6 separate regions of the Homo sapiens genome follow, and all the other regions are reported to be linked to region 5. The links are microRNA targets in miRTarBase. Many come from high-throughput screens and were not tested one by one. Region 5 holds a microRNA gene; each other region holds the end of a gene's coding sequence.

The links. The annotated mature microRNA hsa-miR-5690 reads UCAGCUACUACCUCUAUUAGG and lies in region 5 at 827-847, shown strand. An mRNA with a match to its seed (bases 2 to 7 or 8) in the 3' UTR can be bound and repressed. Matches are read on the target gene's strand: a 7mer-m8 pairs with bases 2 to 8, a 7mer-A1 pairs with bases 2 to 7 and ends in A, and an 8mer does both.
Region 1: miRTarBase lists TRIM2 as a target of hsa-miR-5690. Seed matches in the 3' UTR shown: 7mer-A1 at 1,509-1,515.
Region 2: miRTarBase lists SHOX as a target of hsa-miR-5690. Seed matches in the 3' UTR shown: 7mer-m8 at 2,465-2,471 and 7mer-m8 at 2,144-2,150.
Region 3: the mRNA of ZNF681 is a reported target of hsa-miR-5690. Seed matches in the 3' UTR shown: 7mer-m8 at 1,708-1,714.
Region 4: miRTarBase lists ZNF585B as a target of hsa-miR-5690. Seed matches in the 3' UTR shown: 7mer-m8 at 1,828-1,834.
Region 6: miRTarBase lists UBA6 as a target of hsa-miR-5690. The part of its 3' UTR that is shown has no 7-base or 8-base seed match.

What each region holds. Positions count from the first base shown.
Region 1 is chr4:153,334,539-153,337,665 of GRCh38, reverse strand. TRIM2 (tripartite motif containing 2) reads right to left here. Exons shown (of 12, transcript NM_015271.5): 12 at 1-2,852. The coding sequence ends at 2,700. Among named protein-coding and RNA genes, the nearest start is that of MND1, 8.6 kb to the left of the region's middle.
Region 2 is chrY:658,236-661,362 of GRCh38, reverse strand. It overlaps SHOX (SHOX homeobox), which reads right to left. Exons shown (of 6, transcript NM_006883.2-2): 6 at 1,952-2,578. The coding sequence ends at 2,534. Among named protein-coding and RNA genes, the nearest start is that of SHOX, 35 kb to the right of the region's middle.
Region 3 is chr19:23,741,089-23,744,088 of GRCh38, reverse strand. It overlaps ZNF681 (zinc finger protein 681), which reads left to right. Exons shown (of 4, transcript NM_138286.3): 4 at 1-3,000. The coding sequence ends at 477. Among named protein-coding and RNA genes, the nearest start is that of ZNF681, 16 kb to the left of the region's middle.
Region 4 is chr19:37,182,410-37,185,536 of GRCh38, forward strand. ZNF585B (zinc finger protein 585B) reads right to left here. Exons shown (of 5, transcript NM_152279.4): 5 at 1-3,127. The coding sequence ends at 2,818. Among named protein-coding and RNA genes, the nearest start is that of ZNF585A, 11 kb to the left of the region's middle.
Region 5 is chr6:35,662,480-35,665,606 of GRCh38, reverse strand. It overlaps MIR5690 (microRNA 5690), which reads left to right and starts at 818; the gene lies at 818-890. All of the region lies in intron 1 of FKBP5 (FKBP prolyl isomerase 5), which reads left to right. RefSeq lists enhancers at 1,910-2,409, 2,410-2,911.
Region 6 is chr4:67,616,216-67,619,342 of GRCh38, reverse strand. It overlaps UBA6 (ubiquitin like modifier activating enzyme 6), which reads left to right. Exons shown (of 33, transcript NM_018227.6): 33 at 211-3,127. The coding sequence ends at 346. Among named protein-coding and RNA genes, the nearest start is that of STAP1, 59 kb to the right of the region's middle.

The DNA.
Region 1 (3,127 bases), not on the chromosome of region 5:
TGACAAAATTTCATTTAAATTTTGTCTACTTGTATCATATCAGCAGCACTTTCCCCCAAAAATATGCTTACCAAGAAATACAGTAAATGCACATATGTATCCAAGTGTGAAATGTTATCTATACTTTAACATATATAATCACATATTTTTTGGAAAAAATATAGTGTTTCCTGGAGTGCTCATAGCATGTGTTTTAGCAACACATAGTGGAGCAGGTCTGAATCAAACTATTCTTTCATTCCAGTTTGTGCCAATATTGACATGTAAAAAAAATTAGCTTTGTATTCAGTCTACTATTGAGATATCTAGCCTGATAGGATATGATATGATGGCTGGTTAGATTGTAAGTTAATTTCTAAGTTCACAAATATAATTGAAATGTTGTGCAAAAAAACTCTTTAAATCAACTAGTTTTAAGATCAACAGCCTGGGACAGAAAGAATCTAAATAAAAAGCCATTTTTACTTGTGAAAATAAACTAAAATTAATGTAACCAATTTGAAAAGTTTCTTTTAAACAATCTAGACAAGAGTCTAGCCTGTCTTTTGTGCAGAACGTTAGTACGTGGCAAAATGAAATTCCCACCCCAGAATGTCAGCTCTGAGGGGGCAGCGATTTTTTACCTGTTTTGTCCATCACTGTATTTCCAGTGCCTAAAAGAGTACTTGGTACCTAGTAGGTACTCAGTAAATATGAATGTTTAAATTCAAAGATGTATCTCACTGATGTTAGGAAACAGTGTCTTCATTTAACATTCTAAAAAGTTATTGAATTTTATAGCTTTATCACGGACAGGCTCAAGTATTTTTTAAAACTCTACCTAACTAAAAAAATATTAAACCTAAATGTAAATCTTCCTGGAAAAACCTTTTTTCAGAGGTTGATTTGGGCATAATAAATTTAACAGACAATTTGAAGTAGCTAGATTTCCCTTCTAAATTTTAAGAAGTCCTATATAGAGAATGACTGAATTATAAATTAATAAGCAATAAACATCACATTCATATAATTATACATAGGGGAAATGTTTTCTTATAGTACAGTTCTAAGGTGCTTTCAGTGAAGAAGACCCCAAAGTCACTATCAAAAATGTCAAACATGACATCCTATTTGGTAGAACTGAGTAGAAAATTAAACAGTGGAAATAGACCACAGCTTATTTTACAGTACCAATGACAGATGAACGATTGACTAAATTGTTCTTAACATTTCTCAAAATGCATTTATATTTAAATTAAATGTAACTCAAGTTCAACTTTTATTTTGACCTGTTGGGTTTTTTATGTGTGTGTGTGGTTTTTTTTTTGTTTTTTTTTTTGAAAGCACAGAAGGCCATTTTCTGACTAAAAGCCACCACCGTCATTCTTGGAAAATGGCAAAAATTAAATCTGCTTTAGGGCTTGCTCCACTAGGACGGCTTTAAACTGCTTAGTAAAGGAATGTGCTGAAGAGTGGCTGGACGAAGCTTCTGTCTTTCAGAGTGCTGCCTATTTCAATACACCAAAGATTCAGCTATATATATGTGTGTGTGTATATATATATATATATAATACATTCTATCTTACCCTAATCATGTATACATAGTCCCTTGACACCTCTACTATTCATTAAACAATGATAAATAACCATAACATGCCCTTACCTGTAATGCTTTCAAGATAACACAACTTTGGTAACACTTGCTTTCTAAGGGGGAATCATTAATCAATCACATGCCTTTGGTTGACACCATCAGTCCTCCAAAGGGCTACTTATGGCTCTCTGTCCTAGGATACTGGTGTCCTACTACATGTGCTGACATTTGCAGGAGGTAAAGCTTTCGCTTTCAGGAAGTCGAAGAGAAGAGACACGTGTGAAAACATGGTACATAAAACATGACTAACTTTCTTGATTACATTCCAGTGCAATGATCTGGAGTTAACGGGGCAGTTTGTTTCCCAAAAGGTAGCATTACTTTTGTAATATGCTTTTCAAGGCATTAGAAATTTCAGGTTTCCCTGAAGAAGTACTTTGTTTGCTGATACAAGGTGAGCCAAAGGGGTGGTGAAAAGAACACACAAAAAAGGATCTTTGTCTAACCCAGAAAGGTTGAGAAATTTGCACTGATACTTAAGTTCTGAACTCCAGAGGGCTGCTAATCAGAGCTGGGATCATTTTGCAAGACAGCCTTACTTTTTCCAAAGTAATTTATATTTAGTTGTTGATAACCAAAAAAATGTCACAAGAGTAATACCTACTGTAAAAGTGAGGTTAGAAGATTCCCTGGGTCTTGTGACCTAGGTTAAATGAAGTATATAACTACAATAGATTTTGTTTTTGTTTTGCTTTTGGAAGTTCTGTGCAAAAGCTACCATTCACAGGATTAACGAATACCTTTACATATGCTAGTTTTTTAAGTGTCTGTTTGATTTGCAAAATTAGTTTAGCTACATAAATCCTGTCCCTTAAGCCATAGTTCACAGATGTAAAACTGCAGTTTTTATAGATTCAGTAGAAGAGTTTTTTTTAACCCTAAAGGTGAAATACAGAAATTGGATAAGTCATTTTTAAGGAAATTGTTACATTCAGAAATAACCTTGGAAAGTTCACCAATGATTCCTTCTGGCATAAAAACTCTAGTCATAATCTGGTCCCGCATTGAGAAATCCATTCCAGTTTATAGTGCAAGACCATGGAAGCGGGTATCCACCTGCCCACCATTACTGTAAGTATCGATAGACTTTGAAACAGTGATTTCCAGAGTCTGCAACCACAACATGACCATCTGAAGTTAGGGCCAGGCCTTGGGGGCCATAGAGTGGGTCAGCAGATGTGTTAATGTAGGACAAAAATGATCCACTCCCATCAAAAACCTGTAAACAAATAGGAAGTCAGAATGTTATAGGAGAAGTTATAGTAATATGCTGAACATGGGTTAGAAAACTCTTGATGCTAATGTTTTTCTGTTTCTTTCTTTCTTTTTGACAGGGTCTCACTCTGACACCCAGGCTGGTGTGCCGTGGTGTGAAGACAGCTTACTGTAACCTTTAATTCGTAGGCTCAAGCGATTCTCCTGATTCAGCCTCCCAAAGTGCTAAGATAATAGCCATGAGCCACCATGCCCAGTATATATGCTTTTATATTTAAA
Region 2 (3,127 bases), not on the chromosome of region 5:
ACGTACAGGTGAGCTACAGGTGAGCTGCTGCAGGTGAGGTACAGGTGAGGTACAGGTGAGCTGCTGCAGGTGAGCTACCAGTGAGCTGCTACAAGTGAGCTACACGTGAGCTACAGGTGAGCCGCTGCAGGTGAGCTATACCTGAGCTATGGGTGAGCTGCTTCAAGTGAGCTGCTGTAGGTGAGCTACAGGGTATCACTAGTAGTCAGATGGCCTCTTGCTGCAGCATGGTTTCCAAGGAATATCACTTGCATTTACGTCAGAAAAGAAGAAGAAATGTGGGGCACAAACACAAAAGTTAGGTGCCACCATTGGTGGTGTTGGGACAGGCGTGGCCAATGTACCATCTACACTTAGAGTAAAATACTCTGGCCCCTCATGGTTCCTTAAGATGTAACAAACATCTCCATGTCATTCTTTCTGTAACACTGAGTAACCCATGACCCTTGTCCGTAGCCTGGAGAAAGGCTTTGGAAATCTATAACTTCTCAGCATTAACAATTACTTAGATATTCTGTTTACAAGACAAGAAGTTACAGATTCCCAAAGCATCTTCCCCATGCTCCCTCCAGAGACTCTTGGCGAGAAGAGATGGGGAGGGAGACTGGAGCAAAGTCCACTGCACCGTATTTTATGTTCCCTTCCAACCCCAGCCCTGCCCACCCCAATGGTCTCCTGAGTTCAGTATGATTTCATTATATTAATTAATTGATTAATTAATTGTTTTCAGACAAGGTCGTGCTCTGTCACCCAGGCTGGAGTGCAGTAGCTTGGAGAGCTTCTCAGCATTAACAAGTACTTAGACATTCTGTTGAGAAGCTTGCCTGGCCAAATGAAGCACCCTCAGTTTCTGGCAATTGGCTCACTCACGATTGAGAACAGGCTACAGACAAGAGGAGACATCCTTTCACTCTCCTTTCTCTTCGCTGGACGTCTCTTTTTCTCCTCAGAGTGCGGAAACTACCCACTTTCTGATTTCCTAAGACATGACGTCTGGCCGGGCACCGTGGCTCACGCCTGTAATCCCAACACTCTGGGAGGCTGAGGCAGGAGGATCATCTGAAGTCAGGAGTTCAAGACCAGCCTGGCCAATGTGGTGAAGCCCCGTCTCTACCAAAAAAATACAAACATTAGGTGGGTGTGGTGGCGGGCACCTGTAGTCCCAGCTACTCGGGAGGCTGAGGCAAAAGAATTTCTTGAACCTGGGAGGTGGAGGTTGCAGGGAGCCGAGATTGCACCACTGCACTCCAGCCTGGGCAACAGAGTGAAACTCCATCTTAAAAAAAAAAAAAAGAAGAAGAAGAAGAAGGCTGGACGCGGTGGCCCTCGCCTGTCATCCCAGCACTTTGGGAGGCCCAGGTGGGTGGATCACCCGAGGTTGGGAGTTCAAGACCAGTCTGGTCAACATGGAGAAACCCCGTCTCTACTACCAATAAAAAATTAGCCAGGTGTGGCGGTGGGCGCCTGTAATCCCAGCTACTTGGGAGGCTGAGGCAGGAGAATCGCTTGAATCCAGGAGGCAGAGGTTGCAGTGAGCCAGGATCACGCCACTGCACTGCAGCCTGCAACAGAGCGAGACTCCGTCTCAAAACAAAACTAGCCGGGTGTGGTGGTGTGTGCCTGTAATCTCAGCTACTCGGGAGGCTGAGGCAGGAGAATCGCTTGAACCCAGGAGGCAAAGGTTGCTGTGAGCTGAGATCATGCCACTAGCCTGGGCAACAGAGTGAGACTCTGCCTCAAAAATACAAATAAATAAATATAAATAAATAAAATTTAAAAACAACATGTATCTTTACACAGTGAGGGTAAGAAGGAATGAGAGATGGAGGTGGTGGTAATAACAATTAAATACATGAAATCAGGAGACTGCACACACACACGCGCGCACACGCACACACACCCTCAAACTGTACAATTAACAAAGAAAAGACGAGAACAGGAAGCTAGAACATCCACGTAACAGTCCTTTTTTTGGAGACCACGGGCAGTGGTTCATGCTTGTAATTCTAACACTTTGGGAGGTGGAGGTGAGAGGATCTTTGGAGCTCAGGAGCTCAAGACCAGCCTCAGCAGCAAAGCAAGATCCCGTCTCTAGTAAAAATCAAAAAAATTAGCTGGGTGTGGTGGTGGGTGCCTGTAGTCCCAGCTACTCAGGAGGCTGAGGTGGGAGGATTGCTTGAGCCCAGGAGTTTGAGGCTGCAGTGAGCTATGATCGCACCAGTGTGCTCCAGCCTGGGTGACAGAGCAAGACTCTGTCTTTCTTAAAAAAAAAAAAAAAATTAAAAATAAAGTTACAAAGGCCGGGCGCAGGGGCTCACGCCTGTCATCCCAGCACTTTGGGAGGCTAAGGCGGGTGGATCACCTGAGGTCAGGAGTTCGAGACCAGCCTGGCCAACATGGTCAAACCCCATCTCTACTGAAAATACAAACATTATCTTGACATGGTGGTGGGCACCTGTAATCCCAGCTACTCGGGAGGCTGAGGCAGGAGAATCGCTTGAACTCGGGAGGCGGAGGTTGCAGTGAGTCGAGATCATGCCATTATACTCCAGCCCGGGCGACAAGAGCAAAACTCCATCTAAAAAAAAAAAAAGGCCAAGTGCAGTGGCTCACGCCTGTAGTCCCAGCACTTTGGGAGGCTGAGGCGGACGGATCATGAGGTCAGGAGATCGAGACCTTCCTGGCTAACACGGTGAAACCCCGTCTCTACTAAAAATACAAAAAATTAGCCGGGCGCGGTGGCGGGCGCCTGTAGTCCCAGCTACTGGGGAGGCTGAGGCAGGAGAATGGCGTGAACCCGGGAAGAGGAGCTTGCAGTGAGCGGAGATCGTGCCACTGCACTCCAGCCTGGGTGACAGAGCGAGACTCCGTCTCAAAAAAAAAAAAAAAAAGAGTTCTTTTTGAGAACATGCCTTATCCTAATATTGCATGCAACTGCTACAAAAAATACTAACCATCAATGATAGGTCGACTTTTTCTTATTTTTATAAAATTACAACTCTAAAACCCATACACTGAGTCTGTCTATCTTCATGGTTTAAGGCTCAGAGAGAAAGCTGCTTTAATACCCGCTAAAAAGACCACCTGGGGCCGGGCGTGCTGGCTCATGTCTGTCATCCCAGCACTT
Region 3 (3,000 bases), not on the chromosome of region 5:
AACCAGTCCTCAATCCTTACTACACATAAGAGAATTCATACTGGAGAGAAATCCTACAAATGTGAAGAATGTGGCAAAGCTTTCTATCGATCCTCAAAACTTACTGAACATAAGAAAATTCATACTGGAGAGAAACCCTACACATGTGAAGAATGTGGCAAAGCCTTTAACCATTCCTCACATCTTGCTACACATAAGGTAATTCATACTGGAGAGAAACCCTACCAATGTGAAGAATGTGGTAAAGCCTTTAACCAGTCCTCACACCTTACTAGACATAAGAGAATTCATACTGGAGAGAAACCCTACCAATGTGAAAAATGTGGCAAAGCTTTTAACCAGTCCTCAAACCTTACTGGACATAAGAAAATTCATACTGGTGAGAAACTCTACAAACCTAAAAGATGTAACAGTGATTTTGAAAACACTTCAAAGTTTTCTAAACATAAAAGAAATTATGCTGGTGAGAAATCTTAGAAATGTGAAGAATGTAACAAAACCTTTAAAAGTTGTCACACTTGATTGTGCATAAGATAATTCATACTAAAAAAAAACCTACAAGTGTGAAGAATGTGGCAAAACTTTTAACCAATGCTCACACCTTATTGCACAGGAAAGCATTTGTACTAGAAAAAAATTTCAAATATACAGAATGTGAAAAAGCCATTAATATCTGTTCACATCTTACTCAACATCAGAGATTTCATACTTAATAAAAGCATTATACATGCAATTACTGTCAAAAATCTTTCAGAAAATATAAGCCTCTAAAGTGAAGAGTATTCATTTTGAAGACACACATTATGAACATAAGGAGGGTTGTGGTACCTTTACTTGTATCACAGATCTCATTGTACACATTTTGTGCTAGAGGAAAACCATGGAGCAGTTGCTTAAACTTTGTGCAACATAAGGAAATTTATATTGGAGAAAAACCCTGCAAATGTAATAAATTTGGGAAAACATTTTTTCAAAAACGACAGCTTAGAAAACACTAGAGGGTTCATACTAAAATCTATTTTTGCAGATGCAGTAAATATGAAAAAATATTTAATCCAAAATTCTATGTAAATATCAGATAATTCACAGTAGAAATAGTTAAGGCACTGACACTTCAGGCATTACACTAAATCAGATTGCTGAGTATAGAAAAGAATCTAAAACTAAAGTTGGTAAATGAATTATTTGTATATAACATTATAAGAAGTAGAAAATTTTTGCAGAGTTGTAACTACATTCAAACTATCCTTTGAAAAAAATTAGGTTTTATGAAAAGTGAATAATGTCATTTAACTCAAGTTATGCTCTTCATTCCTATTGTATTCACATGTGAAAGCATGTGACTTAATTGTTGCTGCATCAAAGATGAGAGATTCTTTGTTATTAGGTGTGCATTATTTACGACCTTTTTTAGTGAAAGAGTTAAGGACATTAAAATGTAAGATGCAAGATGAAAATGTAAGTGGAGAGGCTCTTTCTGGTTAATTTATAATATTGACTGATGCATGAGGTAGGAGTTCAGATAAATATCCTGTGTTATATTGAGAAAAAAAATTTTCTGGTATATCATTTTACTAATTGTACTTTTTTTTTTTTTGAGACAGAGTTTTGCTCTTGTTGCCCAGGCTGGAGTGCAATGGTGTGATCTTGGCTCACCAAAACCTCCACCTCCCAGGTTCAAGGGATTCTCCTGCCTCAGCCTCCCGAGTAGCTGGGATTACAGGCATGTGCCACCATGCCCGGCTAATTTTGTATTTTTAATAGAGATGGGGTTTCTCTATGTTGGTCAGGCTGGTCTCAAACTCCCGACCTCGGGTGATCCACCCACCTCGGCCTCCCAAAGTGCTGGGATTACAGGCGCGAGTCACCATGCCTGGCCAATTGTACTTTTATGTAATAAAATGTAGTACATTTTAAAATTTTTAGATAATGTGTGAACTTATTAATCAGGCTTTTTAAAAAACATGTTAAGACCATCGTGCATTCAATGAAGCATTATTATGCCATTAAATTTAACTTATCCCATCTTACTCAAGGGTATAGGTAAATGATGGTAACTATACACTATTTAATAAGATAATGGACTAACATTTCTAGTAATCTGTTTTGCCAGTGGCTTTAAATTGCAAATAAGTCAGAGAATATTATTCCTGTAGGTTGAATTATTACTCATTTTTTCTTATTTAAACTTATTTTTCTTAATTTTTGTGGGTACATAGTATGTGTAAATATGGCATATATGGCATATTTTGATACAGGTATATAATATGTAATAATTACATATGGGTAAATGAAATATTCATTACCTGCAGCATTTATTGTTTGTATTTGTTTGTATTATAAACTAATTCTGCACTTTTCGGTTTTTTTTTGAGACGAGTCTCACTATGTCACCCAGGCTGTGCACGCCTGGGTGCATTGGCGTGGTCTCAGCTCACTGCAACCTCCGCCTACTGGGTTCAAGTGATTCTTCCGCCTCAGCCTCCTGAGTAGTTGGGACTACAGGCGCATGCCACCACACTCAGCTAATTTTTGTATTTTTAGTAGAAACAGTTTCACTACGTTGGCCAGGTTTGTCTTGAACTCCTGACCCCATGATTAGCCCCCTCGGCCTCCCAAAGTGCTGGGATTACAGGTGGGAGCCACCACACCCAGCCACTTTTAGTTGTTTTCAAATGTACATTAAATTGTTGTTGGCTACAGGGTCTCTTTTATGGTCATAAGAAAACAATATAAACAAAATGCATACATTTCTGAGACCTGAATTAACATTAAAAAATTGTTATATATTTTTCTTCAAACATGTTGCCTCTCTGCCTGCAAGCACATACAGACTATTAGTTTTGATTTACACAGAGTTAAATATATACATATATTACTTTAAAGATAAAGCTTGGGTTTAAAAAAATTATGGAGTAAATAAATGCCTTCTTTGCGAGTATGAGTTTCTACCTAGTTTCAGAAGAGCAATATTGAAACAAATCAAATTATTTTAATTAG
Region 4 (3,127 bases), not on the chromosome of region 5:
CTGACATTGTCCTAAGTTGGGGATAATGTTGTATCACAAAATATCCAAAACTGAAGGAAGAATAGTGAAGCTTCAGATACAGTGCTGGATGAGGTGAAGGGAGGTAATGGGTGAGCAGACATTGGTCTAAGATGTTGAGCAGCATGTGATGGGCCATCAGATACTGTGAAGAAGTGAGGAAGCAGAGCTAATGATGGCTCAGTAGACATTGATCTAAGGTGAGGTAATGGGATGTGTCACCAAGCACTGCCCAACTAGGGCTTGGGAATTAAAGGGGCATTGTGGCCCTGCTTCTTTGACTATGTTCTATCCTTTGGGCCCCATCTTCACCTCCCCATACTGCCCTTCTTAAAGGTGAAACCATCTTTGCAGAGCCCAAATAGTTCCCACTCCCAGAACTGCCAATAGACTGGCCCCAGACGCCACCCAGCAACTGTGCATCTAATCAGATCATCTGTCAGCATCTGTAAGGCCACTGCTGCCTATCTAGGGCAAGATACCTAATATCCAATGAAGATCCACCCAAGTCTGCTCTAGTTCCCTGCTATTGGCTTCAGGCACTCCTCTCGGGGCAGGATGAGCAGGTGTGTGGATTGGGTTCTGGAGTAAATGCGGCTCTGTCGAGTTGCAACTGAGACAGGACAGCGCTGTGCATGCTGAGGAAAAATGAGCAGGGAGTCTTTTGCAATCATGTTGGAGCTGTGGGATTCTGGAATCATGGCAGGAAATCCTGGAAGCAAGCATCCACATGGGATTTCCTGTACCTGTTTTCCCTTCTTTAGCATCAGACCAAAAGGTTCACAATGACTTTTTAGCTTTAGGGTTGAGAAGGGATACAGCCCAGGTACAGACTAGAGGTGAAAAAGCCTGGTGTGTTTTAGCCAAGTTGGTTCTCCCTATTAGCGCTTCTTATGCTGCAACACAGAAAAAAATCAGACAGAAGTCACGCAACAAGCATGGGTCAACTCTCCACAGGTGCATTTATGGAATGCCTGCTGTATGGCAGTCATGGGTCTAGACTCATAGTGGTGAACAAAAGGGAAATATTTTCTAGTGTAGAAGCCACAGAGAAATGAGGAAAATACACCAGGCAGCATGGTGGAAATTGCTAGGGAGAAGAATAAAGGAGGAAGGGTAAGGGGCTGGAATTTTAAACCAGGCAGGCAGGGAAGGCCTGTGTGGAGGTGTCATGGAAAAAAAGACATGACGGACAAGCCACAGATAAAATAAAGAATTGTGCTCTTTGCAACGGGCACTGCAAATACAAAGGCCCTGAGTCAGGAACTGATGTTTGAGGCACATGGCGGGGAAGGTCCTTGTGGGGTGCGTGGGACGAAGATGGACACAAGTAGACAGTGAACATATGGTGGGGTTGGTTTTCATATGAGTTATCAATTTCATATGATTTATGATTTATCTCATATCTCATATAATGTAAGATAATGATTTCATGACTTATCAACTTATGAAAGTCAGATCATTAAGGAAAGTAAAATGCTGGGCTTCAACTCAGTCACAAGTAAATTAAAAAAAAAAAAGAGGCAGGCAACTGAGTGAGAAGAATTGTAATAGCAGAAGGAAGAATTTAAGTTCTCCCAGATGACCTGAAAATCCTAACCTCAAAGGCTTTCTTGAGGGTGGTGGGAGTGTACAAAACACTGTGCTGGGCCGGGCGCAGTGGCTCACGTCCGTAATCCCAGGACTTTGGGAGGCCGAGGCGGGCGGATCATGAGGTCAGGAGTTCGAGACCAGCCTGGCCAGCATGGTGAAACCCCCGTTTCTACTAAACATACAAAAATTAGCTGGGCGTGGTGGCACACGCAATCCCAGCTACTCAGGAGGCTGAGGCAGGAGAATTGCTTGAGCCCGGGAGACGGAGGTTGCAGTGAGCCAAGATAGCGCCACTGCACTCTAGCTTGCCCGACAGAGCAAGACTCTGTCTCAAAAAAAGAAAGAAAGAAAGAAAGAAAGAAAGAAAGAAAGAAAGAAAGAAAGAAAGAAAGAAAGAGAAAGAAAGAAAAAGAAAGAAAGAAGGAAAGAAAGAAAGAAAGAAAGAAAGAAAGAAAGAAAGAAAGAAAGAAAGAAAGAAAGAAAGAGAAAGAAAGAAAGAAAAAGAAAAAACACTGTGCTGGGTGTCAAACACAATGTGCTGAGAACCTGTGGGGCTCAGAGAGAGTCCTGGCAGATAATGAAGGGGACTGTAAGTCTTTTTCTATGACAATGGGGACTCAACATACGCTCTGAGGTCTGTGTCTGAATACACAGGGAGTTTGTCTTATTGCAGTATCTCTTGCTTGATAGAAATACTCAATGGGGAATTGGATATGCACAACTGTGTTCGATTCAAAAGAAGAAAATACCCACAATTCTACTAGACAGTGTGTTCTGGAACAAACAACTCACAGAAGGATTCATCACTATCATATATATTATGTTGTCTTACCATTCAAACTGTTGGCACTATACCTAATCCACAGTAAACAGGATTATCATTCCCATAATATGATCTTTCTTATGAAGAATTTGGTAACAGTATTCTATTGTAGTTTTCATGAGAAGGCTTTTCCTATTCACCAAATTGACTCGGTTCCTTGTCAGTATGAATAATGACCCAAGGTTTACTGGGGATGGTGACAATGTAGGAAGGGTCCCTCGCCTCATTCAGTGCCTTCTCAGAGGCCCTCTCCAGAACAGCCATGTGTGACATTCTGATGTGGTCATTTCTATTTACAATAATATACATATTTTTCTGCTGCATGCGTGCAACAGTGTACAATCAGACCCAACCCTCAGGGGGGTTTTCTCACACTGTTTCTCTCAAGCGTGGCTGCTCTGATGAACACTGAACACTGATTTCTGAACGAAGCCTTTCCCACAGATGCCACACTTGTAGGGTTTGTCTCCAGTGTGTGTTGTCTGATGTTTATTCAAATTGGACCTGTTGCTAAAGGCCTTCCCACACTCAGCACACACGTAAGGCTTCTCTCCAGTGTGAATTCGCTGATGCACTTGGAGCTGTGATTTTTTAGTGAAAGACTTCCCACAGTCACTGCACTCATAAGGTTTCTCTCCAGTATGAATTCTGTGATGTGTAATCAACTCTGACTTCTGTCGAAAGGTCTTCCCA
Region 5 (3,127 bases):
TTTAAGATAAACATTTATGGCCAGGCACGGTGGCTCATGCCTATAATCCCAGCACTTTGGGAGGCCGAGGCGGGCGGATCATGAAGTCAAGAGATTGAGACCATTCTGGCAAACATAGTGAAACCCTATCTCTACTAAAAATACAAAAAAAATTAGCTGGGTGTGGTGGCACGCGCCTGTAGTCCCAGCTACTCGGGAGGCTGAGGCAGGAGAATTGCTTGAACCTGGGAGGCGGAGGTTGCAGTGAGCCGAGATCGCGCCACTGCACTCCAGCTTGGTGACAGAGTGAGACTCCTCTAAAAAAAAAAAAAAAGAGGAGCATTTACTAGTGACATTCTAAAGGAGCAGAAGACCCTGAGTGCTGGTTTGAGAAGTTTAGATTTGTTGTGTTGGAACACTATTTAAGGTCCATGAATTAGAGAGTAATGTGGTGGGTGTGCTGTGTCAGAAAGGCTTCACTAGCAGTGTATACAGAATGAGTGGGAGTGAGTGAGCCGTCTGGAGGTAGGCAGGTCCTCTGGAGAACTGTAGTAATTCACAAAGGAGAGGAAGAAAACTCAAAATATGATGATAGCTATGGAGTCGAAAGTAAGATAAGAAACACAATGAATAGTTGGCGGTCCTATTGATTAAGTGGAGAAAAATTATATTGAAGTTGCAAACCTAGGAGAATGGCCAGATAATACAGATTATGAAATAAATGGAGAAGGGACCAATTTTGAAAAAGTTAATTTTCCTTAAAAACATAAGGAAATAAAAGGGTCCTGAAGTGAGAGAAATCAAAGATTGGAGAAGGAAAGAGGGAGAAATTATGCCACTTTTAATTTCAGCTACTACCTCTATTAGGATTTGGGAGTTATACTAATAGAGGTAATAGTTGAAATTAAGAGTGGATGAGTTCTGGTATGAAGTGGTTGATGGGGACAACTGTTGATTGACAACTGCATTTTAAGGAGAGGATACTGATAGTAATGGGAGATGGGATGAAAGAATGCCCAGGCAGAGAGGAAATTTAATAATTTCAGGAGTGGGGAAAGAATAAAGACAAATGTTACTGCAGCCTACCTTTCATTCTTTTACTGTGCATGAGATACTGTATTTGCTGGATGTTTTCCTGTAGATACCACATTGTTCTTCCTCCGGGAGTGGCATGTCAGAAAATTTGATGATTATTTTAAAGATGTTGAGTTTTATTCCTGAAATTGAATATGGTAACGGAAAAAGGGTCTTGGGTAGTTTTTGGTGTCATATGCTGTGTTCCTTTTAGTTCATAAAATCTTTCATCTTGTTTGAATATCTGTGGGTCTAAAAAAAAAACAGCTAATTTTTGGATAGGTAAAAGTCCAGATACTTTGTACATTTTAATTGATTATTTAAAAAATATTCCCTGGCTTTTAAAACTTGGCTAATACAAATTGTAAGAATCACCATCTTTTTAGAAGAACATACTGTGAATTCAGAATTTTTGCTGGCTTAGTGCTTGTCAGCATGGAGCCTGTTCACAGGAAATGCTTTAGAATCAGAGTCAGAGACCTGTGACACTTCTGGGGAGTCAGTATGTAAAATAGTTAGAGTGCAGGCTCCAGAGTCAGTCTCCCTGGTTCCACTGTTCACTAGAAGTATATCCTTGGATAGATTACTTAGCTCGTCCATTAGATTTGCTGTCTGGACGTGTCAGTAGTAACAATCTCAATGTCACACGGTTATTGAAGAGATCCATCATAGAGCTTACATTCTAGTAAGGAGAGACAGGCAGTATACAAATACTATAAATACACTGGAGGAAAACATAGTGGGGCTGATTATAGTCGATTTTTGCTCTTTTATTTCCGGTAACAGTAAAACAACTCTGATAAGAAAAGGTTTGAACATGAAGGCAGACCTGAAGCGAGTGAGGGAGTGAGCTATGCAGCTAACCAGGGAAGAGTTCCAGGTAGTGGGGATAGCAAGTGCAAAGGCACTGAGGAAAGGGCACATGGGAGGGGGCAGCAAGAAGGCCACTGTAGCCAGAGCAGTGAGTGAGGGAAAAGGAGAAATAATTTCAGAGATAGCGAGTGATCAGCATGTATAGGGTATTAAGCATAAGAAGGACTTTGGATTTTATCCTGTGTGAGATGGGAAACCATTGGAGTGCCAGAGTAATTTTTTCTTAAAGCTAGTCTGCTTGTCATTTCTTTTCTTAAAAATGCCTCAGTTCCCTGTTGCCTTTGGAATAATGTTCACGTACTTTACTTTGGCACACAAGGTCCTTCACAGTCAGGCCTCTGCCTGTTTATTTAGCATCATCTGCTTCTTTCCCACATGTACCCTTCACTTTAGCCAAGTGGGATCACATGCAGCTCCCTGGATGGGTCATGATGCTTTGTGTCTTCGCGTCTTTCTGTACCGTTTGCCCTGTGAGAAGCCCTCCCCCTCAGCTCACATGGTCACTGGCTCTGTTTTAGAGGGTCCTCTTTGTGCTCTTGCTCTCTCATCATTTCCACCCGGAGCCACTTTGCACTTAAGCTGCTTAGGCTTGAAACGTGCTGTGTTCTTTTACCAGCCTTGATTTTACTCTTGCCACACCCTTGCCGGTTGAAAGTATGCCTATCCAGCTCAGACACTGCCATCTTCTGCCTCCTTGGGACCCTCAGAAACACTTTGTAGCTCTCTTCTACCTAATAATAATTATTTGGAATTAAAATGTTTCTTTGCCTTCACAAAAAATCCTTGGGCTAACTTATTTCAGTTTTCTTTGTAGCTCCTAGAACAGGGTCTTACAGACATTTCATATTCAGTAGGTATTCATGGTGTGTAGGATTCATAGTATAATTAGAAAACTATTGGCTTTCAAACAACTAAGGGCCAAAAGCAGCAAAAATGAATGCACAATTAAAATGAGTTCCTATTAACAAAACAAATTTACTGTAATTATGATAGCTAGGTAATCCTTGTTCTCTTATATATTTATATATACTTACTAGTGGCACCAAATATTAGTATACCCAGTTTGAGATGCAGTTTGTTGAAATATATTTGGACACAGCCAGGCGTGATGGCTCACATCTGTAATCCCAGCACTTTGGGAGGCTGAGGTGGCAGGATCGCTTGAGCCCAGGAGTTCAAGAACAGCCTGGGCAACATAGTG
Region 6 (3,127 bases), not on the chromosome of region 5:
CCAAATTTATTCACTGTTAGGTAAATGAGTGTCTTGAGTATAAATGAGTTCAGACCTTTTAGTAAAGAAAAATGAATATGTGAAAGCAGATTATTATTAGATGTTAAAGTCTAGATACAAGTCCAGGTTCTCTGGATGGCATTAGTCAGCAAATCATTTTTTCATTTTATAGAATTTACCAAAGTATTCATTCTTGCTTATTTTTCTTAGAATGCATAAACTTGTAAAACCTACTACTGAAAAGAAATATGTGGATCTTACTGTGTCATTTGCTCCAGACATTGATGGAGATGAAGATTTGCCGGGACCTCCAGTAAGATACTACTTCAGTCATGACACTGATTAATACAAGTTGTCTTAACGTTACTCCAGGACCACTTGATTTTGGAAAGAGTGCACTTAATTCAGAAGCTAAAGAAAATCAGTTCATAATACTATGGATTTCTCTTTCATTAAGCCTTAATTTTAAGGGAAACATCAGTAAGAAACTGCACTGAAGAATTATAAAACATTTTGGGGCATAGCATACACTTGTCTAACGGTTCACACGTGGCTATGATCACAAGCAACTTTGAACTGGAATGCTATTTACAAAAGTTTTGTGTATTAATCTGTGTATTAATCTCTCTGGATAAAAAGAAGGAAAAAATATGTATGACCAGAACAGATATGGATGAAGAAATTGAAAGCAACGAATGCAACTATTCAAAAAGTTTAATTTTATGAATTTCTTTTTTGTTTAGTCTTGAAGACTGATTTTCTATGCAAATAGTGTTTGGCATCCTGCACCTCTGATATGATTTGGCTTTGAGAATTTAATACCACTGGGAAGAAGTATGGTAGTGGTGGATGAAGGGTGGATATTTTAAATTGTGCAGTTACAGTTTACTGTCCTATTACCTCTGCTCGTTTAACCAGTTTGTTATATCACTGTGTCCCCAAAATCAGGATTTTTGTTGATAGCATCAGTGTTGTAGGAGCAATAGGTCAGATGAGACATATTAACTTAGACTAAACGTGAACAGTATTATATGGACTCTCACAACGCTCTTAGAGAATCCGTGAATGTGAACAGACAAATGTGGCTAACCATTTGATTCTTCAGTATGCCTTCTAATGTGGCTATTTTATTTATGTGAGACTCTAAACCTGATTGTCCTAATATATAAAACTAAAAGATTTTGTAAAGGGAGTGTCTTTAGAAATAGATGAAATGTAGAATGTTAAAAATTATTGCTAGGGTAGTCTTTTTTTTTTCCAGAAACCTAATTAGGGTATTAAATTTTGTGTTTTTTTTGTTTTTTTTTTTTAAACAGAAGCATGTTATTTCATTCCCATTCCCAGAAAGGGAGTTAATGAAGATAAAAATTTATTTTTTAAGGTCTTTATTGAGAGAAACTTTGTTTTCTGATATGAACTATTGCAGATGTTTTTATAAATACTTTCATTAAAATGATGTAAACAGTAGTACCCAACACTGTAAACTCAGTGAAAATAGTAAATGATTCTTTTATTACTAAGACTGTCATGCATTCTGAAGCAGTTGGCTTTTTTTTAACCATAGGAAGTAATTTCCCTCTAGCTCCTTTCCTTCTACTCTCCTGCTCAGACCATTAGTAGGTACTTTGTTAAATAAAAAACTAGATTAACATCAATATTACTCCAATTTGGTATCTTTTACACTATGTATTATACCTACTTTCTTTTTATTTCATTTACAAATAGTTTAAATTACTTTATCAACCAGCTGTATTGTTTCCCTCTTGTAAAAGTACCATCAAGTGGGGAAAATGTATGTGGAAGTGGAGAGTGAATTTGTATGACTAAAGGATAATCTGTACATGGGGAAGTGGGCAAAAGTGGATAGGATGAATTTAAAGAAAATGACTACCTTTGGAAAAAAGAAATTAAATTTTGTTCACATATCCTACCCTTTCCCATTGTGCATATCCCAAGTGTCATATTTAAAACTAAGGTTACTTAAAACAGAATCCAGGAATATCAAGGCTCTGTGGCTTGGAATTTTAGAGGATAGGACTAATAAAAGGACTTTTGCAAAGAAGGCTTTTTTCCACGTTCACTTTGTTTTGTGTTCTTTGAAAGTAACTGATACTTTTCGGGTAGTTAATTCAGCAGTCCATAAATATGATCCAGTAACTTGCTTATATTTTATTGAAGTCTCGACAGCTCTTCAGAAGTAAATTTAGAACGATGCTGTCAGTTCATATTTATAGATATTAGTGTTTTAGCAGATAAAACAAAATCAACAAAAATTAAGTTCATTTTGTGATTAAACCTGCAACCATTTTTCCATTACTTTTTTTCTATAGTTAATGGTTATTGCCATGATTTCTTCTGTTTGGTTCTACTAAGCTAGAAAGCCAGGGTGAAGTTAATGATAATTCCCATTATTTTATTTCTGTACCATGAGATTGCTGTTGATGACTGAAATACCAGGTGCAAAAATTAATGATTTGATTTTTGTACAGTTTCAATGAGTATTTTTTACTTATTAAAAATAAATTAAGAAATGTAAGAATATCTTTGTAAATCATGTTTCATAAGTTGACTCCAGAGATTCTGATTTTGCTGTTTATTTTGTGAGTAATGTTGCTTTGGTGTTTCCTGATTTTCAAGTTTGCAATCATGGAGATACAGCAGTTATTAGGTGTGGAAGGACATTACCTCAAATGTCCTCAGATGGCTCCAGGAAATTCTTTTAAAACAGTTGGAGAGAAATAGTCGTGACCATGTAAAACCTAGAGGATCTGGTAAATCCCATACTACTGGTTAGGGATTTGTAAAGTCCATTTCTTTTTAGAGTTCAAAGCAGTTCTGTTACTTGTCCATAAGTTCCTCATAAATTGTCCCAAAGGTAGGACATGGAAATAAATGTATATCTTTATTTTTTAATCTACTATGTCACACTCTGGTGATATTCATGGAACATTAAAAAAGCAACTATGTTTATTTTATAATTAGTAAAATGAAGATAGAAAATTGTTCTTTTGAAATTTTTAGGGAAAAAAAAAATCTCGTGACCTAAATCTTTCCACTATAATGAATATTCATTGTGATTGCAAATATCTAATTTTATATAATCACTGTGTATGGATTTAGCGATTTT